Linked DNA regions of Homo sapiens. The protein of the gene in region 2 purifies or fractionates together with the protein of the main gene of each other region. This does not show direct contact. Each region holds a gene or a part of one and is shown on either strand. Other genes may lie near its edges. The genes, in order: EFL1, SASS6, ZC3HC1, C2CD5, IGHMBP2, RTEL1 and NFIB.

Region 1 (5,037 bases), on a different chromosome or scaffold from region 2:
CTACTCAACCTCATCTGAAAAGTTGTCAAGTAACTTTAGAGAACATACTCTTTTGCCATATTTCCCCATGCATGGCCTCAGCTGGAATTTGCTAAACTGTCTTAAGAAAATACTTACTTATCAAAGAAATTCAGGAACATTATCCATATCTCTTACTGTTTGTAATATAGCATGTGGAGGGCATAAACATACTGTAACAACCAATGAAACCTAGTATCCAAATCTAAACCTAGGAATCTACTTTAAAGCAAAAGAATCTTCGAATATATTTATAGTTACTTTTATTAAGCAGACTACATACAACTAAAGTCTATGAGATTTTATGTGATATAAACAGGTGATTCTGTGTAAAGAATGTCAGGGGTATGCATAATTACTACAACTGGGTTGGAGTAAGCAAAGGAGGGTTTTTTTCCTTCAAGACAAGTCTTTATTGCACTTTAGGAACTTCAGCAAAGCTATGGAATCTCTGTATTGTTCAAACCAGAGACCAATGAGTAGGAGAACTGAAGATATTTAACACTGCTATCTGTCTGCAATGTAAATATGTATTAGCATATAATCCTAGAGCATCACTTTCCTGCTACCCAGTAAAGCTGAATTTATTCTAAGTACACCAAGTATATACCTCCCTAGAAAATAATTATCAAGCAAGCAGGAACTTTGCTTTATTCACAGCAGTATCCCTAGGACCAGAACAACGCTTGTCATATAGAAGACCTTCAGAAAATACTTGTTGAATGGATGAATCCCAGGTTTTTTAGGATAGTAGCAGCTTAACATAATTTTAAACAATACATTTAAAGTAATTTGTTACACCCCACTAACTTTCCACTTGAATAAATTCATAAAGAAAAAAAAAACCCTTTTATCAGCCTTCACATTCTCAAAATGTGAGCAGTAAAATTATAAAAACTCATGGAGGCAGGGGTTACTCACTGGATTTGTACTAAAACTCATTCACAGCTGGCTTCACTTGTAAGTGATCCACTATCTGTCTTTCTGTCAGTTTCCATACTCACATTACTTCAGCTCTTCTATCAATGACAACAGCCACCTAATCTCTGACTTTGGATCCATCCTAAGCATGTCTACCAATCTAATCTTTCTCATGTTTTATTTGATTACATCATTCCTGCTCCATGTTTTCCCCCAAAGGCTCCCTACTGCCTAATAGTAGACATTAATGATCGTTTTCATGGTGAAGCGTTTACCTTCCCTCTCATTATTATCACATTTAATCCTATAGCCTATAAAGCAGGTATAGTTTTCATCCTGTTTTACAGATGCTGTATATTGAAGCTCAAAAAGGCAAGGTATGTAACTTGAAAATGGAGATCTGAACTTAGGTTGTCTAACTCCAGAGCTGGAGCACTCAACTCTTATCCCAGTTCCTAGCTGGCATGAGCAGCTCTATGAGATATGACTCAGCCTGCTTCTTCACCTCGCCAACTGGTCCTTCATCTTCAGGATGGTAAATATGTTTTATTTCATATGCCCATCCCAATCACTTTGCTGTGGTTACCTAAACTACCAAGAGGTTTGAAATCAAGAGGAGGCTTAGCATGAAGGAGCGCTATGGAGTTACAGCAGTATCTGTCAGAAGAACATACCATGGGTTAGCTATCTCTGCCTTTCCCATATACTGGGCTTTGACCACATATATTTCCCTCTCCCCTTGATGACACATTCCCACCTGTAATGATTATCTCCATTTGTCATCTTGAGCCCCCTTCAAGTGTCATCTCTAATACTAATTATGTTGTGAGGTCTTTTCCTAACCCCTCACTTCCTAATCCTCTAGTTCTCCCAACCTTAGAGTCTACTTTTTTCTCTTGTTTGTCTCATTTTGCTCTGCTCCCCGTTAAAACCTCCCCTGGGCTAGTGCCCTACTCATAAATCTCCACCTTCAGACATACTAAGCAAAATATCTTGAACTTAACAGACGTTTGATAAATATCTGATGAATTAAATAGGATCACATACCACAGACTCTAAGGACATTATGTCAAGACTACAGACATTTTATATGTAAAGCCATTTCAAAAACAAAAAATTCAAGTTCTGCTTTAAAAAACAACATGACATAATATATAGAAGAATGCTACTCACTAGGTAACCGTGTTCATTTCAAATGCTTTATAGCAAAGCAGGCTTCCCTAACATCACACAAAACTTTTAAAGAAAGAAGACTTGCTTCTTAGCAAACATCACTCTCAGCTGTCCACAGCTTCACTCCACTGAGACATACAGAGACACATCTCCCTTATTTATCAAAATAAGCCATTTAAAAAGTATTCTTACCATGGTCAACATGAGCCAAAACACAAATATTCCTGATGTTGGCAGTGTTTTTCTGGAGTTGAATCATCTTATCCAAACTGTTGAGCACCATGATTACTTATTTCCTGTGACTAAAAATTAAATATGTATTACAAATGGCCCAGAGGCTAAAGGTCGGGGCAAAAGAAAAAAATAATAATAAACGCTGGGAGGTGGCAAGCTTCTCAAACCCCTTAAACCAAGAACCCAGTGAATGTTTATTGATGAGATAGACCACCAAGGCCTAAGTCCAGTTCGAGCACTAAAGTCAGTATCCTACCACGATTACACTTAAGGAGTTTGCTCATCCTTCCGGATCCAAAGGCTGCGATGAATCACGCAGCTCGAGGGGACTGGGTGCACAGTGACACCAGTAACCCTGCCGGTGGAGGAGTACTCCAGTAAACATCTCCAGGCCAATGACCACGTACAGGAAGGGTTGCATCCAGGAGGGAGAGAAAATGCTGAAGAAGATGCTCCCTTTCTCTCTTCAGTCTTCCCCCAAGTCCCTCATTCTGACATTCTCGCTCGTCCTCGCGCGAGGTCAAATACCCAGCTTTATTCCTGCCCATGGAGCCCGAACAAAGTTTTGGGTCACGTGCTTATTATCCAAGCAGGTGCACTGCCGGTCTTTCATTCCTTTCTAAATAAAAAGGAAAAACCTCTACACTACATGCCCTTCATTTCTGCAGGGTCCCAGATTCGTTCTCTTTGAGGATCCTGGGTCCACACAGACAGGCGACCGCCCCGGCCCCAGACGGGAAGCGGCACTCCGGGGACCGAAGCTCCCAGCCCGCGCTCGGCCCCAGCCCCTGTTCCCGCCTCAGAGCCGCAGCGAGCGGGTTCCTCCGGCACCGCCCAAAGGCTGGCCTAGGAGGTTCCAGCCCCCAGCGCCAGCCCACACTCACCGGCTGCAGCAGCCCCACCAGCCCCGCTCCTTCTCTCGGGTCGCACCCACACCGAGAGCTTCCGAAAGTCCGAGAGCTCTGCGGGTCCGACACGCCCGCGCGCCAGGGGGCGGGGCCGGCTGTCGCTCGACCTTTCACCCGCACGTCTCTGACGCCGCCGGAAGCCGGCGCCGAGTCTGTCACCGGGCATCCCTCTGTTGCCTTGACTACGGCGGGCGCTGTGGGAGTGGAGAAGCTGCAAGTGCTGAGGCGCGGTGGAGGAAAGCATGGGAGCCAAGAGTATGAGGAGCTGGTGTCTGTGTCAGATTTGTAGCTGCGGGTAAGAAACGGCTGGTGTAGCGGCGGGCCCGGGCTTGGGAGCCGACCTAGGGCCTAGGTGCACGGAGCCGGCTCCTCGGGAACCCTGAGAGTGGCCGTCCCCCGGAGATGAAGGGACGAGGGCGCAGCGACATCCCCACTTATCCCGCTCCGCGAATACTCGCTCCTCACCCGCCTGCTACCCGGGGGTAAAACGTTTGTTCGTAGCCCCTGAGACTCCCAATCAAGGATGCAAAGTAAAATGCCACCCGGGCCAGGTAAGTAATATATGTGAAGCCGCGACGGGATATAACGCTGGTGAGTAGTGGGATGTGATCCGACTGGGAGAGTGCATTTCCACCCCATAATCCCCCACCACGAAGATGAGAAAGAACAGTGCTCAAGGCCCTGAGTCTGCAACCCATATCACATTTTCTTTCATCTGTAGCTTTCTGTCCTCCCAGCCAGACCATATTCCCATTCCCGTCCAGGCAGCAGTTCTTTGGGATCCGCCTGACTGAAAAGTCAGTAAGTAGTCCCTACCCTGAAATCTAGAATCCAACTGTGAGTCCTGCCTAACAACCTTCCATCACCTGTAAACACAGTCCTCTCCTTCCTCAGCTTCACTATTGACCCAGGGATTAGATCATTATTTGCTAAGTAAATATGAACGTTGTCAATCCCTGGTGTATTTGTAATCCCATTCAAAGAAAACACCTACATGTTGATGGAAAGCAGTTTTTTTAATAGTCTCATAATAAACACAGTTCATAATTATATATAGATTAAAATATCAACAAATTAACTTTGGGTGTATGAATCCTCAGACTGGTGTGCAGGAGAAAATTTTTACTTTTCTCCTAATTTATATTCAACGCAAGTTCCTTTCTCATTCAACTGTAAGGAAATTCAGTCTTCATTATGTTGAGGGCCACCATTGGAATGGCGTGATTTTACTTCTTGTTTGTTTGTTTTGGGCTGTGGTTGTTAGTTTTGTCTTTTTAAGGGTTTATTTTTATTTTTTGACAATGCAATAAATACACAAGAAGTATCATAAAAATCTAAGCAAAAATATCTATAATATTGTAAAACGCCTTCATAATTCTATCTTCCACAGATAACAAATGTTCTTTAAGACTTGTTTTACATATGCATTGATTTTTTTTTTTTTTTTTTTTTGAGACAGAGTCTGGCTCTCTTGCCAGGCTGGAGTGCAGTGGCGCAATCTCGGCTCACTGCAATCTCCGCCTCCCGGGTTCAAGCAATTCTCCTGCCTCAGCCTCTCTGAGTAGCTGGGATTACAGGCTCGTGCGACCACACCCAGCTAATTTTTGTATTTTTAGTAGAGACGGGGTTTCACCATGTTGGCCTCCATCTCCTGACCTCATGATCTGCCTGCCTCGGCTTCCCAAAGTGCTGGGATTACAGGCGTGAGCCACTGCGCCTGGCCTGCATTGATTTTTTTTTTTTTTTAACAAAAAAAGAGAATATTCTGAGCATACTATTCTAC
Region 2 (3,393 bases):
CACTTTATTTACAGAGCTAATGTTTGTCCTAAATTTTCAGGACCCTAGAGGAGAGCTTTATACAATTACCGATGTGAATTTCTCTAAAGTGTATATTTTTGTGTCCAGTTATATTATTTAAAAAAGTGTTACTTTGTAAAAATTGTATATAAAGAACTGTATAGTTTACACTGTTTTCATCTTGTGTGTGGTTATTGCTTAATGCTTTTTAAACTTGGAACACTCACTATGGTTAAATAAGGTCTTAAAAGAAATGTAAATATTCTGTTAATAAAGTTAAATATTTTAATGATTTTTTTTTTAAAAAAGTCTTGATCTGTGAGTTCCTACAGGGTCTGTTTTGGCTTTGTTACCATATTTTTACAGTAACAAATCAAAGCATTATTCATTCTTTCTTTGCATCCATTTCTTTTCCCTCACTAAAAAATGCTCTTCAAGGAAGACAAGAGGAAAGAAACAAAAATGCAGTATGCGTTTTGAAGTACTTGATTTTCAAAGTGTAGATGCTGCATAATAGTTTATTAACAAAGCTCAAAGTTTACAGAAATAACATTAAATGCAACACTTTTTGATTATTAACACATGTACAATTTTACACTGCAAAACAATTGCAACTAAAAGTTTAGGAGGTAAAGAATTAGCACACTTGGAAGTCTGTATACATTTAATACAAATTTGCAAGATATCAGAATGATCTCTCCTGAAAATTCAACTTTCCTTGTGTATATATATGCAAAGAGATACCTATATTTTAAAAAAGAGAGCTACCTGTATGTCATGCATCCCATCCAAAACATGTCACAATATTTTATATATATTACATAGTATTTACAACAAAGCCCCTTCCATAGTATTTACAATAAAGCTCCTTCCAAAATCACCAAGAGGCTTCTTTCCAGAATAGCAAGTGCTTTCAAGTTACTGTACCAAGTATTCTCACTAATACAGTAGTGTATCTAAATGGGGGAGGTGGGGGAGTATCAACTGCCTAATATTAGTTACTGAATTTTCAGATTAGATCCCTAGTTTAAAGACACTTGCAATTGCCAATAGTTTCAAGATACTGGCTTCGTAAAAAAAAAAAAAAAATTAGCAAAGATTCTTTCTTACCATGGGACTCAGTAATGTTATTACATCAATATCTTGAAATGTTTCTTCATCTGTGTAATAAAGTAGTTGAAAATAATTTTAAATTATCACATGAGCATTAGTACTTTATAAAAATTGATCTAGAAGACTCTTTAGAGAATGCTACCAGGTATTGTTTGTCAATAAGAAAACAAAATGAGGCCCTATGATTCTAGGTGAATTTTAAAAAAATTTTTCCCCAAGGAACAATTCTTAAAACTTTCAGTTACAGGGAAGAGAAGAAAATTGTACCTTCTAACAGTTATTTGTTTTGCCTAGTTTATTAACATTGAAATCAACCCAAGTTCTGATACTATAAAAATAAATGAATATTCATGATATAGTAGATTTAGTAGTAGTACCAAGTTTTAAAAGTCCACTGATACAGATTTAACTGCATAATAAAACTACAAATTGAGAAAAACTAGATGAGTATAAACATTTAGGAAGCACTGAAGTTTTAAAAACTTGTCAGCTCAAATGACAAAAGCACTTAATCTGGTCACATAAAAACTGTCCAAATTATTTTAAGTATATCAAATTTATTTGATTCATCACTAGCAAATTTAAATGCTTCAAGGAAAATACGCTATGAAGGCTTAATTCATTTCAGTTATTTAAGGTAAATTTAGGACTTTTCCCTTTAAATGTCATCAATAATATATCTCAAGAGGTAATCATTTTCCCTCATGATTTTCAGGTGTTGAATTTAAAAGTTTTACCAATGAAAGTGATAAAATGAATTAGTATTCTTTGGTTGCATACTATGAGGTTATGAGCAGGTTTTAGTTTACCCAGATTTTTAATATGATCAGAATCTCCCTCATAAGGATCAACTCTTTCCTTAGAACTGAATTTCTAAAGAATAGCTTAATAAAATTCATATTATTCTATAAAACGCCATGTTCACAAACCAAAAAATGTCATTTACTCACAATCTTTACCAATCCCCAAGTACAAATTTGTTCCTATATTATAAACTGCCATAAAAGCAGTACTTAAAGTATCCAGTCTTTAACAGCTCAAGTAAAATTTGAAACTTGCTATTTGAGGATCTGGTTTGTGTTGACATATTTTTTAAGCACCTGAGTTTCTAAAATACCAATAAAAAGTAAAACATGACACTAGAATTAACTGTTTGGTAACTGCCCAGGGAAATAGGCTGAAGACGCAGAGGGGAGCGCTGTGGGTTTGGAAGATGTATGTAATGCTCCTAAAGTGCCATCTCTCTGATGGTCTGCAAATGAGGACAAAAAAAGGTTACTGGTATTCATTAAGTCTTCATACATTAAATTTAATTCAACTATAAAGTACAAAAATCCAGAAATCCCTGCTTACCTGAATTACTAAATAGGTTCTGGCTGAGTCCGCGTAAAGGAATGCTATCTTCCCTTTTCTTCAGGTATTTGGATTCCAACCCTACATTTTCACCACTTAAAAAGAAAATGGTAATAACTTATTTAACAAAGTCTTTATTAACTTTGAAGGTTTATCTCATATGTATACATATATATAAGATAATGTAACTAAGTTCTATTTATAGCTTAGCTTTGTTCAGAACACATTCTTCACTGGTTTCTTAAGCAAATGGTAATTTTATACATAAACCAAAGTATCCTCAGTAAAGAGTAGATTATAATAAAATTTTAAGAGCTGGGATAAGGATGGTGGGAAAAATGAAAATTCTACAAGTGCTATAAAAATTTAAATACTAGCACATAAGTGATACATGACAGAAAAATACGTGCCTTGAGAGTAACACTATTAATTTCTAACTCATATTTAAAATAAGATTTCTTTTTCCTTTGACCAAAAGCTCTTCGAAATTTTCTAGTGCTTCAAAGTAGTCATGATCAAGTATTAACACACATTACACAATAAATTCTGATCAAATTAATACAAATGAGAAAATCTGGGGGAGAAAGAAGGGCATTTCTGTGTTTCCCCTTTCTACCACTGCCATCCTTTCTAAATACATCCAGTGTTAACGGTTTCCCTAGTATTACTTGTAATAAGAAGTTAAAGGCTCTTGCAAAACAATGAGAATAAATCAATCCTTAAAATTAAATGATGGTTGCTCTTGACCCAATTTTCAGAAATAAGTGGGTGAACAGACTTTTTTTCTATTTTATTTTTTTCTTTAAAGTTTGATACCCGGTGCCACTTTTTGCTAGCTGACAAATAAAAGAACCAGAAAAAACTCAAAATCACTGAACAGTCCTAATTTTATGGACAGATGGATATGTTTGACTTCATACTACAAAT
Region 3 (4,462 bases), on a different chromosome or scaffold from region 2:
AAACATGACTGACATTTTTTCCCTTTGGTCATCCAACTTTAAATTTATTCACATGGTCTACTTTTTGCATTGGACCACGGAAGGGCTCCTGCCTGCTTCTCCATGCTGCCTAGGGAGGGCCCAATATGCTGTTTATGCTCAGCCACTGCTACATGCGAGGTGGACTCACCGAACTGCTGGAGGAGCAGAGGCGAGCTCGCTTGGCTTTCCGCAGAGGGCTAGATGGTACCTCCAGGCCAGGGGTGTCTCCTGTTCCCATGCTTCGGGTCACTGGGCGAGTTCTGGTGGTGGGGCTAGCAGCCTCTGGCTCAGGACGGTCAACAGGACTGGAAGAGTCCCAGCTCCGAGTTCGAGAGACAATGGGACCAGGGCTCTTTTCAGCCTGAAGGAAAGGGGAGATAATGGAAGTACACGAATGATATTAATGATTATGGTCAGAAATACTTCTTTCTTTAATCTTTTTTCTTTTTTTTTTTGAGACAGAGTCTCGCTTTGTTGCCAAGGCTGGAGAGCAGTGAGGCGATCTTGGCTCATGGCAACCTCTGCCTCCCGAGTTCAAGTGATTCTCCTGCTTCAGCCTCCCAAGTAGCTGGGATTACAGGTGCCTGCCACCACACCTGGCTAATTTTTGCATTTTTGGTAGAGACGGGGTTTCACCATGTTGGCCAGGCTGGTCTCAAACTCCTAACCTCAAGTGATCTGCCTGCCTCAGTCTCCCAAAGTGCTGGGATCATAGGCGTGAGCCACCGGGTCTGGCTGAATTTAGCTTCCCCATTAGTGAACAGAAACACTATGTGGTATCGTAACCAATGTAGTGGGAAGAGAAGCCTATCCACCTAAATTAATTTCCAACTTTCTACCAACAACACTTTTGCCAAGAATGTTGTTTAAAATTCCACCCCAAATAAGCTAAGTGAATACCTGCTCTGAGCCTGGGGAGAAAGTGGCATCCTGGCTCCGGGTCATCATCCTCCGAGGAGATTCAGGCACCAGAGGTAAGCGCTCTGGTCGCCCCTCAAGGCCTGGGATTGGGGAGCTGGTCAGGCCAAAGGATGCATCCAGGTCAGTCATGGACGATTCAATCTGCTGGAAGCCCCAGAGCCCCACCTTCCTCATACATTGCGAACATGTTATCAGGGAGAGCTGCATGGATTCCAAAGAGGAACTAGATAGGAATGAAAAAGAGAGTTTTCTCAAAGTGTAACATTTCCAAATGACTAAGTGCAATGTCTTGTGAGTATGCCTTATCTCATCCAATTTCTGGAACAGTCACCATGTCCTATCAGAGCCTCTGTGCTCCAGTCTCAGGACCCAGCTTCATACTTCATCATCTCTCACATATTTCCCATAGAAAGACCTCGGGTTCTTAGTGTGCTCTCTATGGTAAGACTGTTTTGCAGGCATGTTTTAAAAGTTTCTCGGCCGGGTGCAGTGGCTCATGCCTGTAATCCCAGCACTTTGGGAGGCCAAGGTGGGTGGATCACCTGAGGTCAGGAGTTCGAGACCAGCCTGACCAACAACAACAACAACACAAAAAGTTTCTCCTGTCCCTCTTTTTTTTTTTTTTTTTTTTTTTTTTTTGAGTCAGAGTTTTGCTCTTGTTGCCCGGGCTGGAGTGCAATGGTGCGATCTCAGCTCACTGCAACCTCCGCCTCCCAGGTTCAAGTGATTCCCCTGCCTCAGCCTCCTGAGTAGCTGGGATTACAGGCACCCGCCACCATGCCCGGCTAATTTTTGTACTTTTGGTAGAGATGGGGTTTCACCATGTTGGCCAGGCTGGTCTCGAATTCCTGACCTCAGGTGATCCACCCGCCTTGGCCTCCCAAAGTGCTGGGATTAAATAAGTGTGAGCCACCGTACCCACCCTCTCTTGTCCCTCTTAAAGTCTTTTCCCTTTAAACAAAAAACATTCCTTAATCTACCAAAGAGAGCATATTTAAAATACATCAAGATTTATTTACTGTCAGAACCAATCTTGATGTATTTTAAATATGCTCTCTTTGGTAGATTAAGGATAGTGGGAGTCTATGCCAAATTGAGCAGCTGGAATGGAAATAGCAACATGGGGGCCTAGAAGACTCCAGCTGGTGTTTCCTATGGTAGTTTTTATCAATTAAGCGGATTTTTCTTCCTTTCTAAAAATAGAAAAGAACTTCCTTTCTATTTTTCCTTCTTAAAAATAGAAAAGAGCTTATTTTCTTTCCATTTTTAGAAAGGAGGTTCACTGTTTATAGAACACAAATTCAGCCTGGTGTGGTGGCTCACGCCTGTAATCCCAGCACTTTGGGAGGCCGAGGCAGGCAGAACACGAGGTCAGGAGATCAAGACCATCCTGACTAACACGGTGAAACCCCGTCTCTACCAAAAATACAAAAAATTAGCTGGGCGTGTGGCAGGCACCTATAGTCCCAGCTACTCGGGAGGCTGAGACAGGAGAATGGCGTGAACCCGGGAGGCGGAGCTTGCAGTGAGCTGAGATCGCGCACGCCACTACCCTCCAGCCTGGGCAACAGAATGAGACTCCGTCTCAAAAAAAAAAAAAAAAAAAAAAAAGAGAACACAAATTCCCAGTTAAGAAGCAACAGTACAAGAAACAAAGTTCAGTTGTGAACACCAAGAATTCCTGAATTCCAATTCTGGTTTTGTTACTAATTCTTATTATCCATTCTCCTCGCACCATCCCCCACCCAGTTTTTCTTTGTCTCTTTTTCTCACGGGAAACACCATGTGATTTCTAAATACGATTAGTGACTGATATATATGGGTGTAATGCTGTTGTCATGGTTCATGTCTCCAGGCAAAATCTGCTGACTCACCTACACGCCCAGCCACACACAGAGAGAATACAGGCAGTGACGTGGACTTGGATGTCTGAGCCTAATTTGATTGTAGTTTTTCTCTCATCAGTTCGGTGATCAAGTTCATCTTCAAGCAAGTGTAGGAGAAGACTGATCTTGTCTTCTGTCAAGCACTACAAGGGAGCCAAGTAAAAAACTTCGTTTCAACCACCATAAAAAGAAAAATTACACATTATAACATACCTAGATGGTACAAGCCGAAAATCAGGAAGGAAATTACAAACATGAAGATACTTCTCTTCACAGAGAACAAAATACTTCCAGGGACAGGGCTATAGTATCACACAGAAGCTTTCTGAATTGCCCTGAATCTGCTGACTGAGAAAGATGGAGTCTCCCTGGAACTGCCAAAACTCTTGTTAGTACTAAATTGTTCAATTTACCAGCTGCAGATTTTCCCTGAAACCTGCAAACTTCAAACCCAAATAGTGAAGACAAATTACTGCTTATGTCTTAGCCTGACACTAAATTTACTTAAACATTAAAGAGGCCAGGCGTGGTGGCTCACGCCTGTAATCCCAGCACTTTGGGAGGCCGAGGCAGGTGGATCACAAGGTCAGGAGATCGAGACCATCCTGGCTAACATGGTGAAACCCCGTCTCTACTAAAAATACAAAAAAATTGGCCGGGCGTGGTGGCGGGCACCTGTAGTCCCAGCTACCCTGGAGGCTGAGGCAGGAGAATAGCGTGAACCTGGGAGGCGGAGCTTGCAGTGAGCTGAGATTGCACCACTGCACTCCAGCCTGGGCGAATGAGCAAGACTCCGTATCAAAAAAAAAAAAAAAAAAAAATTAAAGAAAAAAAAATTTTAGAGATGGGGTCTCACTATGTTGGCCATGCTGGTCTTGAACTCCTGAGCTCAAGCAATCCTCCCACCTCAGCCTCCTGAGTAGCTGGGACTACAGGCATACATCACTGTGCCCCAGGCTCTAAATTTACTTTTTGACAGAACAACAAAGCTCGTTAGACTTTATTTTTGTTCTAAGAAAAATAAGGAACTATGACCAGGTGGAAAAAAAAAATTGCCTTGGCTAGGGACAGGGTTATATTCATAAGCATCAGAGGTTAATAGTTTCAGTCTATGGCCATACCACCCTGAACGCGTCCAGTCTCATCTCATCTCGGAAGCTAAGCAGGGTCAGGCCTGGTTAGTACTTGGAGGGGACTTTGGGAGGTTAACAGTTTGATGCTAAAACCCATACCACTCTCTTAATTTGAAGAGGCTACTATTTCCTACAGTAAAGCTTGTCTTCATGGAGTACCCATAGGGTGATTAAATGGAACAGTAAATATTCAGTTTCAAAGTACAGATTGACTAGAGCATTTATTTTATTTTTGAGATGGAGTTTCGCTCTTGTTGCCCAGGCTGGAGTGCAATGGTGCGATCTCGGCTCACTGCAACCTGTCTCCCAGGTTCAAGCAATTCTCCTGCCTCAGCCTCCCAGGTAGCTGGGACTACAGGCATAAACTACCATGTCCGGCTAATTTTTTGTATTTTTAATAGAGACGGGGTTTCACCATGTTGGCCAGGCTGGTCTCGAACTCCTGACCTCAGGTGATCTACCCACCTCAGCCTCCCAAAGTGCCGGGATTACAGGCATGAG
Region 4 (4,462 bases), on a different chromosome or scaffold from region 2:
GAAAATGTTGAACAACCCTACTAAAATGTTTCAAATCAAATGAAAAAGCATAGATAAAAGATAAAAATCTTAGCAAGAACAATTTCATTGATTCATACTTACTCCTTCATTTCTTTGGATGGGGAATTACATGCAGGAAGGAATGCTGCTGGGCTACTTAATTTATCCAGAGTACACGCCGTTCCTATGGCTCGCACCACTAACCCAGACTCGCCCTCCAGATCGAAACACTGTAAGTACCCCACAACTGCATTTCCTCTCATTTCAAGTACTTTCAAGCCAATCTTCCTCTGCAGCTCACCTACAAAACATGGGAAATCTCATTCTTGCTTTGTAGCTTTACATTACATACTATAAGACTGGACATGGTAGTGGTAAAAAAAAAAAAAAAGACCAAGAAAATCACAGATTTTCAGAACTTGAAGGAAACTTAAAAGATAATCTGGTTTAGCCTCTACAGAATACAGAACATAATTCTATTACAATATAGCATAATTATAAAATATAATATATACTTATACAGCACAAATATATAGAATAAAAACAAATATATTTGCTATATAAATATAACATTGATACTTTGTGTGAAATACATGTATGAATATATATTCACACATATACACATATAACTCTTAATATAAATGTAAATTTTAAATAAAACAGTAAACAAGTTTTTCAAAGAAAAATTTAAAAAGGGAATGAGGTCAGAGTGGCAGGGAAAGTGGTCAAAAGGATAGAGGGAACTACAGTACCTAGGGAGGAACTGTGAAAAGGCAACATCTGAACAGAAAGTATGAGAGACAGAAGAAGGTGATTTGCTTAAGCTCTGACAAATAAATGGTAGATGAAGGAAAACTAGAATCCAGGTTCCCACTCAGGGTTCCTTCCTGAACGCCCCTTGCTCAGCGCTCTTTCCACTACACTACCTCATCAACACAATTTCCTTTTACTACAAGCTTCTGATTTGCATTTCCACTTGTTAAAAGAGGGCAATGCAAGTGTGTTCAGGAAGACTGGCCCAGGGGAAGGCATGCAGTCACTTATAATTCATAGCCTTCATTGTAAAGTTGAGGTAGCATGTCAAAGGAAAGCAAAAAATTTAAGAGAGTACTAAATCAGTCAGTAATAAAGTTATTTTTTTTAAATACCTGACATTAACGAAATGAGTCTCTGTCTGGCCTCATTTGATGCCCTTGGTGTGCGAATTCGATCAATCCACTGATATTCTGGGTCTTCATTGACCACAAGTTCTTCTACAAATCCATGAATTATCACAGCTCTATAGCATTTTGGAATAGACGTTGCTGTTAAAACAAATTATTATGCTTCTGTTTATCAAAAGGTAAAACTCAATTTTTAAAAAATGTACATCTCAATTTTCTGACCTTTAGATACATAATACAAGAACATCTTTTACTGTAATATTTTCAATGTAATTATAATAATACTTCCAGTCTTCTAAGATCTATTTCATTTTTAGAAATAATTATTGTCTTTCATGGAGGCTCTCACCTTTCTCATGTAAGCAAAGTAAATATAAACTGCATTTGTATAATTTGGAAAACAGCTATAGAAGACCTTAAACAGAATTCAATACAAAGTTTAAAAAATCAAAATTTAAGTCAGCTAGCTAATTATTATATAAATAGGTAGAAAGCAGATAATGAATTTTTTTAAATCTTTAATTATTCAAAGCCCTTTGTAAAAGTACTTCTGTACACCACATAGCAGTTTCAAAAATCAAACCATTACCTTTCTGACATAACCTGAGGAGTCAAGTTCAGATTCAAAAAGGAGAGAGAGAACCTGAATACATCTGTACCAAATTAGTCTCTTAAAATAAACATTGGTGCACTGAAGCTAAGTCAACTACTTAGGGATTTCAATCCTACTACTGCAGGCGGGCTGTGATCACCAAGATCTGCCCATTTCAGACCCATATATTTCATGGAGTTCCCTAGACCCAATACCCATAAAAGCCTGTGTATTTTGGGACAGCACCATAGTGCTTAGCCGTAGTGTTCTGCTCCTTTCTTTTAGTGTCCTATACTACAGTGAAATGTCACTGGATTTTTCTAATAAAAATTTCTATAAATTTTCAAAAACTAGATATCATTTATACTCAAATCAGAACTACTGTAACTATTCTAGAAAATTAACAATTTTCTCTTTGGCATTAAAACCAAGTACAATAGCTTTTCTACTTGCCTTCTGAAATGTTAACTTGATTTCTCATATTTAACAGTTATTACATTTCCTGTTGAGTAATAGAATGTATTTACTTACTGCAAAAGAATTTGACTCCACATGATGACTGCCTAAATCGATTTAAATCATTGAAGAGGTCTACTTTGACAACTACATTGATTTCCCCACGGATACCTATAAATTTAAAAAGAAAATCAAGTTTCTACCTTAAGAAAGTAATGTACAATTAAATAATGAAGCAAATTAATGCTAAATAATGATTTTAAAATACAATGATTTAACTCACAATTTTTTGAACTTTACCATGGTGCAAAACCATTCTGATTTTCACTTTCAGTCCAGAATTCAATGAATTACATGAGATGTTCAATACTTTATTTAAAAAATAGTCTTTGTTTTAGTTGATTCTGTCCAACTGTAGGCTAATATAAGTGTTCGGTGCACATTTGAGATAGGCTAGGCTAAGCTATAATGTTTGGTTGATTAGATATATTAAATGCATTTTCAACTTGGGATGAGTTTATCTGGATATAACGCCATCACAAATCAAGGTGCATCTGTAATGTGTTGATCATAATAGTAATGCCAGCTTTGTTTCCTAGTTATTTTCTTTTTCAGTAGTTTCTGTATATTTTCTGAAGCACAACACGTATGCATTAGAATATGAATAATTTTCATTTTCACAAGTCTCCACTTTGACCCAAGACTAATTAGAAAGGAGTCCCATTTGAATTGATGATGATGATAATGATTATGGTGACAACATTTGCTGAGCACTGATACACGATGTACTAAACACTTTACAGGTAGTATCTCAGAGCAGTCACATCAACCCAATAAGGTAGTATCATCCCCATTTTACAAAGGAAGAAATTTTTAATAAAAATTAAGTAATTTACAGTGTCAATAGCTGTTAAGTGGCAGATCCAGGATTAAAATTCAGATCTTTATGATCCCAGATTATATATTCTTAACAATGCAAGAATCTGATTTAAAACAAAAGAAGTTTTATTCTTTTCAATGAATATAAGTTAAAGCAAGCTAACTAAAAAATTCCAAGCCAGGAGTAGTGGCTCATGCCTGTAATCTCAGTGCTTTGGGAGGCAAGGCAGGAGGACAGCTTGAGCTCAGGGGTTTGAGACCAGCCTGGGCAACACAGCGAGAAAAAAATTAAGTAAATAAAAAATTCCAAGAATAAGGGTTTTCAAAACATGCTCTGATAAATAAGAATGACCCAGATCTTATCTCTAAACATTTACTAAATATTTTCACTTGACTGTCCTGACTTCATGTCAAATTCATACTTATGGTGGAAGACTTAAGAAAACTGACTCAATAATTTACCTACTAAAATATTAAGAAAGCAAATCCCAGCACTCTGGGAAGCTGAGGCAGGCAGATCACTTGAGCTCTAGAGTTAAGGCCAGCCTAGCCAATATGGCAAAACCGTGTCTCTACAAAAAATTTAAAAATCAGCCAGGTGTCATGGCATGTGCCTGCAATGGCATGTGCCTGCAATCGCAACTGCCCGGGAGGCCCTGCTTCAGGCAACAAAAAACTTTTAAGTAACTTTTAAGTACAAAAATCATTATTAATCAGTTTGAAAATGTGTTTTAGAAACACAGTATCAATACTAGATCAGTTTTAAATCATGCATTTACTTACTATACTATACAAATTTAGCAAGCATTATCTCAAATTATGTTGAGAGAAGCAACAATTTTACTAACAATAATTTACTATTATTTATTTTTAAAAAGGCATCATCTTAAGATATATTATATACATATATATATATATTTTTTTTTTTTTTTTTTGAGCTAGAGTTTCACTCTTGTTGCACAGGACACGATCTCAGCTCACCACAACCTCCGCCTCCCGGGTTCAAGTGATTCTCCTGCCTCACCCTCCCAAGTAGCTGGGATTACAGGCATGCACCACCATGCCCAGCTAATTTTGTATTTTTAGTAGAGACGGGGTTTCTCCATGTTGATCAGGCTGGTCTCGAACTCCCGACCTCAGGTGATCCACCCGCCTCAGCCTCCCAAAGTGCTGGGATTACAGGCATGAGCCACCGCACCTAGCCTAAAGATACATATTTTAAACCAGCAAATATAGCACAAATGTCTTTAAGGACAAATAAAAAAGATTAAGATTGTTATTTATAATACTTTCTTATTATTCCTTACCATGTATGGTGTCATAAATTGGAAACCATCCTGAGATGACTGTTGCAGCTTCACTATACAGTAAA
Region 5 (4,462 bases), on a different chromosome or scaffold from region 2:
CTTGTCCTCAGTAACTGGCTTTCTGTGTGGCGAGCAGCAAGACCTAGACCACACTCCTGGTGTTTCGTGACTTTCTGGGCTCAAGCTATCTTCCTGGCTCAGCCTCCCAAGTAGCTGAGACTGCAGGCATGCATCACCATGCCCAGCTAATTTCTTCTATTTTTTGTAGAGACTGGGTCTTGCTATGTTGCCCAGACTGACCTCAAACTCCTGGGTTCAAGTGATCCTCCCCCCTTGGCCTCCCAAAGCGCTAGGATAACAGACATGAGCCGCTGCACCCAGCCACAGCTCCACTATTAAAAGTGAGACGCTGGCCAAGTACGGTGGCTCATGCCTGTAATCCCAGCACTTTGGGAGGCCAAGGTGCGAGGTCAGGAGTTTAAGACCACCCTGGACAACATAGTGAGACCCCATCTCTGAGGAAAAAAAAAAGAGGAGGTGGCAACCAGCAGAGGAGGCAGAGTCTCTACAGGCCCTTAAGCTCAAAACAAACAGCAGCTCAGGAAGGAGGCTCAGCCACCCACTCTCTATGCCCAGCATCGCCTCCAACCCCACTGGCATGTCCAAAGGCATATCTCCACCAAAGCGTGCACACAGGTGTGTCTTGGCTCACTTTTAGTGAATAGTCGGCACCCAATTAAAACCACCAATCTGCTCCCTTCCAATAAGTCATCTTTTCTTACCAGTTTTCAAACATGTGCAAAGACACTCACACATTGGAAAACCGCTGGACGTAATCTTTTAAGCAAGTGACAGGCTTCCCTGCGCTCTGCCCGAGTTCCATTGCTGGCTCTGCCACTCTGAGTGCTGGGCATTTGACCTTGTTTCTCAGTTTCCTCGTGGTTTTTTTGGTTTTTTTTTTTTTTTTTTTTTTTTTGGAGATGGAGTTTTGCTCTTATTGCCCAGGCTGGAGTGCAATGGTGCGATCTCAGTTCACTGCAACCTCCACCTCCCAGGTTCAAGCAATTCTCCTGCCTCAGCCTCCCAAGTAGCTGGGATTGCAGGTGTGTGCCACCACACCCGGCTAATTGTTTTGTATTTTTAGTAGAGACGGGGTTTCACCATGTTAGCCAGGCTGGTCTCGAACTCCTGACCTCAGGTGACCCACCCGCCTCAGCCTCCCAAAGTACTGAGAATACAGGTGTGAGCCACCACACCCGGCTTCCTTGTCTACAAACTGGGGCCACTAACCACCTGCCTTGGCACAGGGTTTCAGTGAGGATTAAATGGGTGCTCAGAACGATGCCTGGTGGTAGGCAGCACCCAGTAAACATCAAACTACAAAACTGGCCATTATTCCAATTCTCATCATTATCCAACATTTTTATAAACCAGAAAGTTTTTTCAAAAAGCTCTAGAACTTAAAGTATAATTAAAAATAAATAAATAAATTAAAAAAAAAAAAACTCTCCATGTGCCAAGATCCACAATGACTCAAGCTGATGCAGATGATGATAAAAGATCCTTTTTCAGCCATTAAAAATGTAACTGGGCCGGGCACAGTGGCTCATGCCTGTAATCGTAGCACTTTGGGAGGCTGAGGCAGGCAGATCAACTGAAGTCAGGAGTGAGACCAGACTGGCCAATGTGGTGAAACTCCATCTCTACTAAAAATACAAAAATTAGCCAGGCATGGTGGCGCACGCCTATAATCCCAGCTGTTCGGGAGGCTGAGGTAGGAGAATCACTTAAACCCGGGAGGCGGAGGTTGCAGGGAGCCAAGATCCCGCCCCTGCACTCCAGACTCTAGCCTGGGTGACAGAGTGAGGCTCCGTCTCCAAAAAATAAAAATAAAAAAAATTTAAAATGTAAGTGAATAATAATGTACAATGTTATATTCCACATCTCAGAAAATCATTCATCTGTGCACTGGACATGTGCATCGTATCCATTAACCAGACTATCTGATTAGCTGTTAACACCTCAACCAGACGCTGAGCTCCTGACGGGCACAGACCGGGCCCAGGCCAACTCCAGGCCCCTGCACGGGCGTGCACACGGAGGAGCACGAGCACAGCAAGCGTGGTGAACAAATAAACCCTGACCCAGGGCCTGGCCGACACGAAGGCTGCCACGCCTCAAAGGGCTCCAGGAGCCTTCCTCAACAACCCAGGCTACGGCTCCTGCGCGTGCTCCCCAAGACTCACGGGGATGCTGGAAATCAAACAGGGGCAGTCCAAGGCTCAATCAATAAATGCTCAGTAATGTTCCTGACCCATCCCACCAGAACTGAGGCTGAAAGGTCGCTGAGCACCCACTGAACACAACAGACCAGGAGCGGACGGGCTCTGACAGGGAAGTGGCATGCACTGCCCACCTTTAAGCCTTGTTTCACAGCTTGAAGAATGATCTCAACCACAGTCGTGGTTTTCCCAGTGCCAGGAGGTCCATGGATGATGGCAAGTTCTTTCTGAGACAGCGCAAATAAAACCGCTTCTTTCTGGGAGGTGTCCAGGCAGGTGTTGAAGAATGTCAGCGGGTCTGTGGAAGAAGCAGCAGCGTGAGGCTCAGGTGCTCTGGGGAGCTCTGTGGGTGTTCCTCCTCAGAGAGTGTGTGCCCCGGGGGATGAGTGATGCCTGTCAGGAACACGCCGGACCTCCCCAGGGGCAACCCAATCAACACAAAATTAAGTCTGCTTTATTTTCACAAGGTTTCTCCTTGAACAGGAATCGGCAAACTGTGGGCCACATCCAGTCAGCTGCCGGTTTTGGTGAGTTTTACTGGAGCACAGCCACACCCATTGATTTACATACCGTCTACAGCAGGCAGCTGTAGACGGTACGTATGATATGGCCCACAGAGTCAAAACATTCACAATCCATCCCTTTACAGGAAAAACCCCTGCTCTAGAGTAACAGGAATGAAGGAAATGTTTCCTAGAGCATATTCCTTTCTAACATAATGTCCCTCTTTAAAGTGCCCATAAAATGATAAAGACAAATGACAAAAACAATGATTAACAAATTCTAGGATCGTGTTTCTATTTTGAATCTTCCACGACCAAGACTAAAGATCTGCTTCTTTTTTTTTTTTTTTTTTGAGATGGAGTCTTGCTTGTCACCCAGGCTGGAGTGCAATGGCATGATCTCAGCTCACTGCAACATCCGCCTCCTGGGTTCAAGCGATTCTCCTGCCTCAGCCTCCAGAGTAGCTGGGACTACAGGTGAGTGCCACCATGCCCAGCTAATTTTTTGTGTTGTTAGTAGAGACGGGGATTCACCGTGTTGGCCAGGATGGTCTTGATCTCCTGACCTCATGATCTGCCGGCCTCAGCCTCCCAAAGTGCTGGGACTAAAGGTGTGAGCCACCGCGCCTGGCCAAGACCTGCTTCTTATGCTGTGCTCTTGAGAGCAGGTGGTGCTGTGCTCAGCCCTGCAGCCATGGCATTCGCTACATGGTGCCCACTACACAGAGACGCCTATCGGATAAGGAGCAGCTCATAAGCAAAGGGTGTTTGCTGACCCTGACTTGTGAGACTGAAGCCAACATGGAAGACGGCAGGGTGTGCAGCTAGTAACAGGCCATTGAACCCCACGTTCCCGTGCTCTAGCCAAGCCATTCCAGAGTCCCTAAGACACAGTAAATACATTTCTAATTCAGTTTGTGACGCATAGGAGCCCTTCAGTAAATATTTCATAGAAATAAAGCATTACTGAAATGTGACTGCATTTAGAATTTCCAAAGGAAAATGCAGAAAGAAAATGAGTATTTAAAAACAACACATCTTGAGGGACTGCATGCTGAAAGAGTGCTACAAAGTCGTCCTGTGTGTTTGAAGCTAACACAACACTGGCTTGCCTAGCACAGTATGATAGAAAATAGCTGTGGGGTAACCCTTGCATGAGGCTTGGCCAAAGCCACCGCTTTACAAATGGGCCAAGTCCAATACTCACAGGACTGTTAAATCATGGGCAGTGACTGGATGAGACAACAAACTCCTCCCAAAAATGACGTTCTCCAAGAACAGCAAAGGACATAAAAAGTGCACAGACCGGGCACGGTGGCTCACGCCTGTAATCCCAGCACTTTGGGAGGCCGAGGCAGGTAGATCACCTGAGGTCAGGAGTTCAAGACCGGCCCGACCAACATGGTGAAACCATGTTGTCTCTACTAAAAAATACAAAAATTAGCCGGGCATGGTGGCGGGCACCTGTAATCCCAACTACTTGGGAGGCTGAGGCAGGAGAGTCACTTGAACCCAGGAGGCGGAGGTTGCAGTGAGCCGAGGTCGCACCACTGCACCCCACTCTTGGTGACAGAGCAAGTCTCCGTCTCAAAAAAAAAAAAAAAAGATTTTTCCAACCTAAAATTGCTATCAAGCATAAAGTATGATCAGCTTTCCTCTATTTTCACAAAGTACTAAGCTAAAAGAAATATCATTACATTTCAAAATAAAAGATTTATATACACTAAAAAGAACATTATTTTAAAACTCAATGGAGGCTAGGCACGGTAGCTCATG
Region 6 (4,462 bases), on a different chromosome or scaffold from region 2:
CACCTTCCCCGAGGCTCCGTCCCCAACCAGGGGTGGGAGGAAGCTCCATCTGTGGGTCAGGACCCCACTTGGGGTCCACAGCTCCCAGACGCCACCTCCAACTCTTGTGGCCAGGAAACTCCCATCCTGCCTGCCCAGGCCCAGAGCAGGACACGCTCCCAGCAGGGCCAGCAGTCGCTCTCGTGGGACCCAAGGAGGGGACCGGGCAGCCCCCAGGGCCCAGAGTCTGCTGGGGAGCCATAAGCACCCACCAGGGAACAGGCAACCAGGTCAGGGCAGAGGGCCCTGGAGAGCTCACCTTGCCCCGGCAGACCGCCAGGAAGGTGGCGCCGGTGGACCCAGGGGCGGCAACCCTTGCATAGTAAGCACTGATGGTCTGGAAGGAAAGTTGGTGAGGCTGAGCCTGGAGCCCCCCCCCAGCCCCTTCCTCCCCCATGAGGGAGACCCAGGTCTCATGCTCCAAGATGAAGGATCGTCCTAGCCAGGAAGGCCAATCGGGTTCTGGAAGCTTCTTCCTGGCACGGATCCCAGGCTGACCCCACGCCTGCTCAGTGCTTCCCAGAAAACACGGGGAACCCCAGGGCCAGGGTGGCCGACTAGGGCTACTCAGACAGGAGGGCCACTGTTACCACACCCACCCGGTGCTGGGGGCTTTGTAAGATAAGAGGCAACACTCAGGGCCAGGAAGGAAACGCAGGAGCCCTGAAGAGGCAGCGGGAGCCGCCGGAGCCCATGGTCAGGGCCAGTGGTCAGCCTTGGGGAAGCTGTGAGAGGCAGGGGAGGCACGAGGGGGCAGCAGGCCCAGAGCCCCGGCCAAGTGCCGACCTCGGAGAAGCTGCCTTTGCTCCTGGGCTCCACAAACAGCGGCTTCAGCGCCTCCATCTTCCTGGCCAAGTCGCGGGCCTGTGGGAGGAAGAGGCAGGGACACGGCAGCCCTGGTCACGCCGCCGATCCGATGAGGGCAAGCAGGAGCTGTGACCACTGCCTGCTTCATGCTCCAGCCCTGCCCTCACCCACCCCGCCCAGAACACAGGGGAGACGCACCCGCCAGAACTCCAGGCTCTTCTCCATGACAGGATAGGAAGGGAAGAAGATCAGGAGCCCATAGGGCACCACGCGGGCGATGTTGCCTGGAAGTGCAGGGGCCGGGGTCAAGGCAGGGGCAGGATGTCTGCAGGGTTCCCTACCAGCTCTTGGGAGCAGGGGTCCAGGATCCAGGATGGGCACAGCTGGGGCATTCAGGGCACTCACCCAGAGCCTTCCCCAGGGAGGATAAGCACTCCTCGGAAAACCTAGAGCCGGAGAGGCCACTGCTCAGGACCTCAGGCCTCAGTGCTCCCCCACCTCCCACCCCAGCAGGGCCCAGGGACAGGCCCTCACCGTCTGTCAAACGCGGAGCTCAACTGGGCTCCATCGGGGCCTCTGGGGACGACCCCCACCCAGATCTGGTGCTTGTCGATGATGTGTGGGTTCTCCAGGCAGACTGGGAAAGGGCTGAGCGTGGCCAGAGGGAGCAGACAGTGGGGAAGTGCACCAGCACCCCTTTAGCCCTCGAGGCCCGAGACCCCCAGCACCCGGCTCATGGGGACCCCCACCACTTCCACCCCGCTGATGTCAGAGGTGTCACCGGTGCTCAGGCCCTGGCAGGGGTGGCCCGTACATCTGCATCTCCAGAGCAAAGGAGGACACCGGGGCCAGCGTGCCGCTGGTAAGGATGAGGGAGCGGACGCCCTGGCGGACCAGCTCGTGCATGCTGTGGCCGGGACTGAAGCACCAGTAGCTCAGCACCTTCCCTGTGGGGCGGGGGGCGGCAGAGGGCACAGAGTGTGAGGACGGGACTGGGGGCCTGACCACCTGCCTCTCTGCCCATCACCCTCTCCACCCACTGGCATCAAGCAAGCGAGCCGCGGGCAGCCACCCAGGCCCACTGTGCAGAAGTCAGAACAAAGGAGGCTGCCCTGAGTGTGAGCCTGCCAGCTTGGGGCCCCTCTGGGGGACAGGGGGTCCTGGGAGTAGGAGGCAGACCCCAGGCAGAGGCTGGGGACACCTGCAGAGAGGTCAGCCCACTCCAACCCTAAACTTCTGCAGAAACTGTGACATGCGGCTCAGGGCAAGAAGCCCACCCCGCCAAGAGCACACGGGAAGGAAGCGCCGGCATCCCGACATTCCACGGCCGCGTGCAGAAGACGGGGTGCGAGTTCCCAGCTCTGCCTGGAAGCAGGACACGTGCACAAGCCTCTGAGTGGCGTCAGCAGTGAACAAGGGCGCCAGCTCAAAGGAAGTTCCTAGAAGGGCTTGACCGACTGGCCACGGCGGCCGTGGCCTGGGGAGGAGGCTGAGTCTGGATGCCGGATGCCGGGAATTCAACACGGCACAAGCAGAACGACTCTGACTGCGATTCGGAGTCAGCAGGGACGAGGCACGTTTCCTTCCTGGGGCTGAGTGTGCCCTGCAATGGGGGAACTTCCCCACCCCCTCCTCCAGGAGCTCATTTCCTACAAACGCCCAGTGCAGGGAGTGGCTGCTTCTGAGAAGTCAAGTGACATCAGAGGTCAATGGAACAAACAGATTCCAGGCCCTTGGAATCTGTGCACCGGCTGCCTCAGGCACGCACTGCCTCCCGCAACCCCAACTGCGTGAGGGGCGCCGGCCTCCCCCCGGGATGGACGCTTCCTGCTGGGAGAGGCCTTGCTGCAGGACCATCACCGAGCGGGGGTCAAGCCACGCCACCCTGACGCCCTCCCAGCCCTTCCCTTCCGGCTCGGCCAGGCAGACCCAACCACAGCAACCGCACAAGGGCTGCTTCAGCCAGGGCCACGTCATGCCACCATGGGTCGGACAGCAGCTGAGAAAGAATGTTCCAGAGAGGGACGAACCAAGCCCAGAGGCAAGGCCCCACTGGAGCACAAGGCAGGGGCAGCAGCTCCCGCAGCTGCAGCCGTGAAGCCCCACCCTGGACACCACGCAGTGGGGGTGGGGCCAGATACACCCCAAGAACCACAGGGCTCCGGACACGGAGCCGAGGGCACACTCACAGACCCCATCCACACAGCGTCCCCGGCAGCACCGACTCGAAGACGCCACGGAGCACAGGAAGCCAAGAAGGCACGTGGGGCCTCGGGGCTGAGCGCACCAGGGGCTTCGGACAACAGGGCCAGCCGGGCCCCCTTCAGATGTGACCCTGAGGCTTGGCCCGGCCAGGCGCTGCGTGGAGGCAGCAGGCAGAGCCGTGCCTCACTGTGGAGGCTCTGTGCTGACGGCCTCGGCATAAACGAGCGTGTCCCAGCAGGGAGGCCTGGCTGGGCTGTGGCTCTGCCACCACCAACCAGGTGACTCTGGGCAGGTCACGGTGCCATCAGGCCATCTCCTACGTCTCTCAGTAACTCCAATCTTCAGAGGGACAGTGAGGAGAATGCTCTGGATTGGCCTGGATATGGAGAAGGTGGCCAGGCCCATGGGGGCAGGAGATCCACGGCTGGGCATGTGCCTAGCCTGTGGCATGGTGGTGCCGGGCACTGCACCCGGGCGGGCGGGGAGCGTGTGGGCCCAGGTCTGTACCTCGCTTTCTGGCTGCAGTGGTGCTCCAGGCATCAGACCGCTGAGCCGTCCTCCGGTGACCAGCATCAGGATGGATGTGCACCTGGAGGGGACAGGACCAGGAGTGTGGAGGCCCCGCCCATGTCCTGGGGGCAGCCCCTTACCTTTTAGGACCAGAAGACCCCCAGCCCCACCTGCCTCCTGGAGGTGGCCCCCACCTTATAGGACTGTAAGGCCCCCAGCCCTGCCGGGGAACAAGGGCTGCCCTCCACCTGCCTCCTGGAGGTGGCCCCTACCTTATAGGACTGTAAGGCCCCCAGCCCTGCTGGGGAACCAGGGCTGCCCTCGGAGGGGTCCACACTGAACACAATCTGAAAGGCAGAGGAAGTGCAGCCCCGTCAGGAGCCTGAGGCCACCCGACTTTCTGCAGCATCAGCCGCATACACAGAAGGTCACAGGACACCCAGGGGTCATCGGTTCACCGGCCCCTGCCATCATGCAGCCCCAGGCCAATGGACAGGAGCTGGCACCTGCCTGACCCTTTCTCCTCCCTGCAGGGACCCCCGGTGAGCTCTGTGTTCCCCCAACATAGGCCATCTCCATGCACTGAAAATGCGGCAGCCCGAGGGGCCTCTCCTCCCGCCAACTGGCCCAGCCCTCCTCTCTGTGCCCCTGAGGGCCCCAAATTAATCTAGAAATTCAACATGGCCTAGTGCAGTGGCTCAGGCCTGTAATCCCAGCACTCCGGGAGGCTGAGAGGAGCAAACTGCCCGAACCCAGGAGTTCGAGACCAGCCTGGGCAACATGGTGCAACCCCAGGGTGTTCACCAAAAAAAAAAAAAAAAAAACCTAGCCGGGCATGGTGGCATGTGCCTGTGGTCCCAGCTACTTGGGAGGTTGAGCTGAGAGGATCCCCTGAGCCCAG
Region 7 (4,462 bases), on a different chromosome or scaffold from region 2:
GTGCACACAAGGTCTGATTTTAATTTGTGTAGAATTTCCATGAATAACAAAGTCTAATTAAGACATCCATTAAAAGTCCTTAACGTTAATTCAGTGTGGAAAATCTTAGAGTTCCATTGGATTTTTTTTTTAACTGATGTCTTAATTAGGCACTGTTAGGGGAAAAATTATGCAAATTAAAATCAGGCCCTTAGTGTTACACATTTCTTTAATTATTCAGTGCTTGTTTTACGTATATTTCAATTTCTTTATAAGTTAAGAGGGCATATTAGGTGATAATCTGCCTATATTGTTCTCAGTTTTTCTTCACTTTTTCAAGATACATATCACCTTCTAAGGAAGCATATTACTCTCATCTCAAAAAAAAAAAAAAAAGAAAAAGAAAAACTAGCAACAAAAAAACTCTCAGGATTTTGTATAATAGGAACCGTGTATAAAGTAGAATAATCCTTTCCTAATGCTGTTAGCTTCACCTTCAGACAAGACATCTCTCTTTTCTATCTACAGTATGAAAGTTCATCTATTAACAGCCTTAAAAGATAGAAATTTTTAGTGTAGCTTCATCTGTTTGAACCAGTAGAAAACTGAGGAGAAAATAGCCCTCAATTCTTCTCACCCTGAGTTTTAGGAAAGTTGTCTGCATTGACTTGGGAATTCTTTCTTTGTCACCTTTATTCTTTTCAAATGAGAGAAGTGTCTACTAGTTCATGTTGTTCAATTCCAGTAGGTGAAGTTTGTAGAATGGTCAGGGTAGGATAATATATTTGGTGGCAGCATTTCCTTGAAATTATTGTCATTCTGCTCCAGACATTTTGTTCCAGGTAGGTACTTTCAGACTGTTTTGGTGAACACTGTATGTAGAAACATTTTTACCATTGAATGTACCACCAATGATAAAATGAGACCTGTCTTCTTTCTTAAGATATTTAAAGCACTTATTTCCAGTGTTCAGATAACCAGAAATGGATGGCCTGCTGTAGAAACAAACTACTTTTTCCCTTTGAAAGGAAAAATGGGTCTTTATAGTTAACTGCAGATTTTTTTTTTAAGGAACAGTGTATCTGCTTTGATTTTTAACTCCAACTCAAAACCAATTAATTTGCATTTCAAATTAGAATTCTTGGTATTTACCATTTTAGCTTTAGAAATGGAAAAACATCAGTATTCCTTCACCATTCACTTCTAGTCAGCTGTTGCTTCCCAATATTCTCCAGCACTGCACTGATTTTGATTTTTAAGATAAGCAACTGAGATGCCTTTTCCTCCCCACAGCAATTTTGAGATTAATTGCATTACTGCTGCACCAATTATAGTGAGACAGTCATGCTATTCAATGGAATATTTTGAATAAAATTAGTTTAAAGATGTAACTCTCCCATAGGTTTCCATATTGGAAAACTCTGGTCAATTTTCCTGACATCAAGTTAAATACTTAAAATTACCCATGATGAATAATCAGGATATTCAGGAAGTCCATTTTCTTTATAGAATAAATAATGTGGCCTCTGAGGAGCCTAACCGAAGACTTAGTTCATGTCTCTAAGTCACAATATTTAAGTGTTATTAGCTGTTCATCTTTTTCTCTAAATAAATGTCTACTTGTAATTTATGTGCAGATATTTAGAAAAATATTCTGCTTCATTTTTTTTTTGCCTTTAACAGTTCAGATTATAAAGACTATATACTTGCCGAGAATAGCCTCCCAGCAAATTGCGATGAACACCGTGCAGTGGAGAATTCCAACATGGGTATAATCAAAAATAACATTCTCAGTCTAGAAAAATATATTCCACTATTTCTTCAAAGAGTGTATCCTTAGGATTTTGTTTCCTACCACGGAAACTATTTTTGTACCCAGGAGCTAAAACTCAGATAGTAACATCTTTTCTATCATTGCCCAGGGGATTTTCTCAGTTAATTCTCACAAATGTCAACAAGAAATGTTTTGTGTAACTCTCCATGCACCACCATGGATGTAAGAGTAACTCAAATAACAATGCTCATTTGCTTGTCCTCTGCTTCCCCTCAGTACAGTTTAATTTACTTTGGAAATCTTTTATTTGTAGGTGTAAGGACAAACGTAGCTCAGCATTTTATATCATTGTATGACCTCTGAAATTTTAGATGCTTTACATCTTATTCTATCTTCTTGTATTAGTAAATCATCAAAAGTTGACCATAGATCTCGGAATCTAAATTGCCTAATGTGTGCATCTCAGCACACCTGTGTGTAAGAGAGCTAGAGTTTTGTATGCAGGAGAATGGTTCTTGACTGTAAATGATGAAAATTCCAGAATTCGTTGTATTTGATCTCCTAGATATTTTTGTGTCCTTTGTTTCAGTGATATCATCATGTAGGTGAAAATTGTGTTCTAAAAGCCAAAACTGACTCATTATAGAAAATGAAGAGCAGAGAATAAGGAAGCATTGGGTTCCAACTGTAGCTAGTTCAGTAAGGAATTCCATTTTAGCCTTTGGGCTAAGCATTTAAGTCTGCACTTGAGTTTCTTGGCCTACTACATGAAAGGATCAAGTCTACCTGGCTCTCAGGGGTGCTGTAAAGAGGAATTCACCTATACCATGACGTGCTTTGAAGATGAAAACCTTCTTTGAAATGCTGCTGCTCCTTATTACTACCAACCATTGACTGGCCTCTCCGACTCCGACTCGAGAGGGCCTGTGTGGCGCCTATGCGCAGTGTGCTGGATCCACACAGTCGTGTGTGCTGAGTGGACTTGTTGAACAAGATGACTGCCTTTTGGATTGCTTCACCCGGCATTCTGTTTTTGTTTTGTAGCCTAACGGCAGTGGTCAAGTAGTAGGGAAAGTGCCTGGCCATTTCACTCCTGTCTTGGCACCCTCTCCCCATCCCAGTGCAGTGCGACCTGTGACCCTGAGCATGACAGATACTAAACCCATCACTACATCCACTGAAGGTGAGGCAGCTTCACCTACAGCAACCAGTAAGTATTTCCATAGGAAATGAGAAATGTCCATCAGAGGCACCATTGGATATCTGATCCAAGGTGGAAAACACGGCAATTTTTCCAGCTACCTGACCAGATGGAGATTTCTCATTTAAGTGGAGCTAGCAGGCATGGATGTGGCCCTGCTATCACAGGCTCTCTCTTCTCAAATTCCAGTCAGTGAATCATATTTGAAAAGGGAGAAGCTCACTTGTTTAAGTTAACAGCTATAACAAAAATAATAAGTCATGCCTGCTTGTTCAAGGTATACATTGAAATTGCACTGAGTAACATAACGCAGAATACAAAGTTTTCGTATCACCCAAAGAGAGATTAGGTAATTGGTACTTATTGGAGCATTCCTATAGAAATCAAGCCCCTTCACAAAGCAGATGGAATCAGTGCCTCTGTAAGGTAATTGCATGTTTACATCATTGTAGGTTATGTCATTGTTAAAAACAGTCGCATAAGGTTGGGAACAGATGAGGACATTTCAAAACTTAGTATTAGGCACATGTAAGCTACCTGTACTTTCACTATCTGCAAGCTTTTTTTTTAAAACCTTTTGATTATTTTGCTTATCATTGGTACATCAAATACTGTGCTTTTTAGTGTGGCCATAACATTTAAATGTCAGAGATTTAGCCAGTGAACCTTCCTAACACGTACCAATAAGCCGCATCATTCCTTTGTTTTTTCATGTAAAATACTTAGAAGTATAGAAGAAATTAATTTTGAGGTGGTTTCACCCAACTGTCAGCTTCTTAGTACTGGAGCTGGAATGTACAAATTGGTGAAGTAGAATGGATAAAGCTATCGAATTGGTGGAATTAGCATGCACCTCACCAATTATACAGATATCTTCAATTCAAACCTTTTTTTTTTCTTTCTTAGAGCAAGAAAATCCCCATGATCTTGAAATTTCCATGTGAATCAGAGACAATCAGAGGCATGCACCACTCATTCTTTCTCAGCCATTGGAAAGATGCTCTTTTTTTTTTATGGTTTCTGAAAGACTAGGAAGGAACCCTATAAGAAAAATGGACAATACTTTGTACAGTGAATTCAGCATTTCTTTCTCAAAATTCATGAGCCCCGTCAATTAATAAGTTCCTATAGGCTTGTAATACCCATCAGTAATTCTTAATGCTTAGAATACTTCCCTGAATGCACAGATGGATGCGACCTACTCAGGAAAAACTAAAAATTATTTTGTTCTAGAGGTTTGCTATGTGCATTACAGTCACCAAAACACTAAGTACTCATTTTAAAAGTGGATGTCTTCACATCTTTGAGCAAACAATGTCAGCAATTTAAATAAAAGCACACAGAAAACAAAGATTTTTTTTTAAGTAGTTGAAAGATTATCACAGGATAAATGGTCAAAACCAAGTTCTAGAAACTCTGATGCCTACTCTTGTGGTGTTATTAATAGAAGAGATTCAGGAGAGGATCAGACCCAAATGATCACAGTTCACTTATAGGAGTACCCTCAG

What was found.
Region 1: the proteins of SASS6 (region 2) and EFL1 purify together in Homo sapiens (affinity purification with mass spectrometry; one large-scale study listed by BioGRID and IntAct). This does not show direct contact.
Region 3: the proteins of SASS6 (region 2) and ZC3HC1 purify together in Homo sapiens (affinity purification with mass spectrometry; 2 studies listed by BioGRID and IntAct, with this or other methods). This does not show direct contact.
Region 4: the proteins of SASS6 (region 2) and C2CD5 purify together in Homo sapiens (affinity purification with mass spectrometry; one large-scale study listed by BioGRID and IntAct). This does not show direct contact.
Region 5: the proteins of SASS6 (region 2) and IGHMBP2 purify together in Homo sapiens (affinity purification with mass spectrometry; one large-scale study listed by BioGRID and IntAct). This does not show direct contact.
Region 6: the proteins of SASS6 (region 2) and RTEL1 purify together in Homo sapiens (affinity purification with mass spectrometry; one large-scale study listed by BioGRID and IntAct). This does not show direct contact.
Region 7: the proteins of SASS6 (region 2) and NFIB purify together in Homo sapiens (affinity purification with mass spectrometry; one large-scale study listed by BioGRID and IntAct). This does not show direct contact.

The regions. Positions count from the first base shown.
Region 1 is NC_000015.10:82,259,384-82,264,420, forward strand, and holds the start of EFL1 (elongation factor-like GTPase 1), read right to left. Parts: upstream 3,352-5,037; 5' UTR 3,231-3,351; intron 3,146-3,230; exon of another isoform or gene 2,754-3,145; intron 2,415-2,753; 5' UTR 2,396-2,414; coding exon 2,305-2,395; intron 1-2,304. Other genes in the region: SAXO2 (stabilizer of axonemal microtubules 2), read left to right, coding at 3,497-3,549. UniProt on the Homo sapiens protein: GTPase involved in the biogenesis of the 60S ribosomal subunit and translational activation of ribosomes.
Region 2 is NC_000001.11:100,083,070-100,086,462, forward strand, and holds the end of SASS6 (spindle assembly abnormal protein 6 homolog), read right to left. Parts: intron 2,562-3,393; coding exon 2,467-2,561; intron 2,366-2,466; coding exon 2,259-2,365; 3' UTR 501-2,258; downstream 1-500.
Region 3 is NC_000007.14:130,023,342-130,027,803, forward strand, and holds part of ZC3HC1 (zinc finger C3HC-type protein 1), read right to left. Parts: intron 2,972-4,462; coding exon 2,817-2,971; intron 1,166-2,816; coding exon 922-1,165; intron 383-921; coding exon 170-382; intron 1-169. UniProt on the Homo sapiens protein: Required for proper positioning of a substantial amount of TPR at the nuclear basket (NB) through interaction with TPR.
Region 4 is NC_000012.12:22,523,324-22,527,785, forward strand, and holds part of C2CD5 (C2 domain-containing protein 5), read right to left. Parts: coding exon 4,398-4,462; intron 2,383-4,397; coding exon 2,287-2,382; intron 1,305-2,286; coding exon 1,149-1,304; intron 302-1,148; coding exon 103-301; intron 1-102. UniProt on the Homo sapiens protein: Required for insulin-stimulated glucose transport and glucose transporter SLC2A4/GLUT4 translocation from intracellular glucose storage vesicle (GSV) to the plasma membrane (PM) in adipocytes.
Region 5 is NC_000011.10:68,909,459-68,913,920, reverse strand, and holds part of IGHMBP2 (DNA-binding protein SMUBP-2), read right to left. Parts: intron 2,482-4,462; coding exon 2,318-2,481; intron 1,536-2,317; exon of another isoform or gene 1-1,535. UniProt on the Homo sapiens protein: 5' to 3' helicase that unwinds RNA and DNA duplexes in an ATP-dependent reaction. Specific to 5'-phosphorylated single-stranded guanine-rich sequences. May play a role in RNA metabolism, ribosome biogenesis or initiation of translation.
Region 6 is NC_000020.11:63,684,969-63,689,430, reverse strand, and holds part of RTEL1 (regulator of telomere elongation helicase 1), read right to left. Parts: intron 3,909-4,462; coding exon 3,834-3,908; intron 3,641-3,833; coding exon 3,559-3,640; intron 1,794-3,558; coding exon 1,661-1,793; intron 1,495-1,660; coding exon 1,381-1,494; intron 1,293-1,380; coding exon 1,252-1,292; intron 1,131-1,251; coding exon 1,045-1,130; intron 904-1,044; coding exon 826-903; intron 377-825; coding exon 299-376; intron 1-298. UniProt on the Homo sapiens protein: A probable ATP-dependent DNA helicase implicated in telomere-length regulation, DNA repair and the maintenance of genomic stability. Acts as an anti-recombinase to counteract toxic recombination and limit crossover during meiosis.
Region 7 is NC_000009.12:14,114,682-14,119,143, reverse strand, and holds part of NFIB (nuclear factor 1 B-type), read left to right. Parts: intron 1-2,797; coding exon 2,798-2,936; coding exon of another isoform or gene 2,937-2,963; intron 2,964-4,462.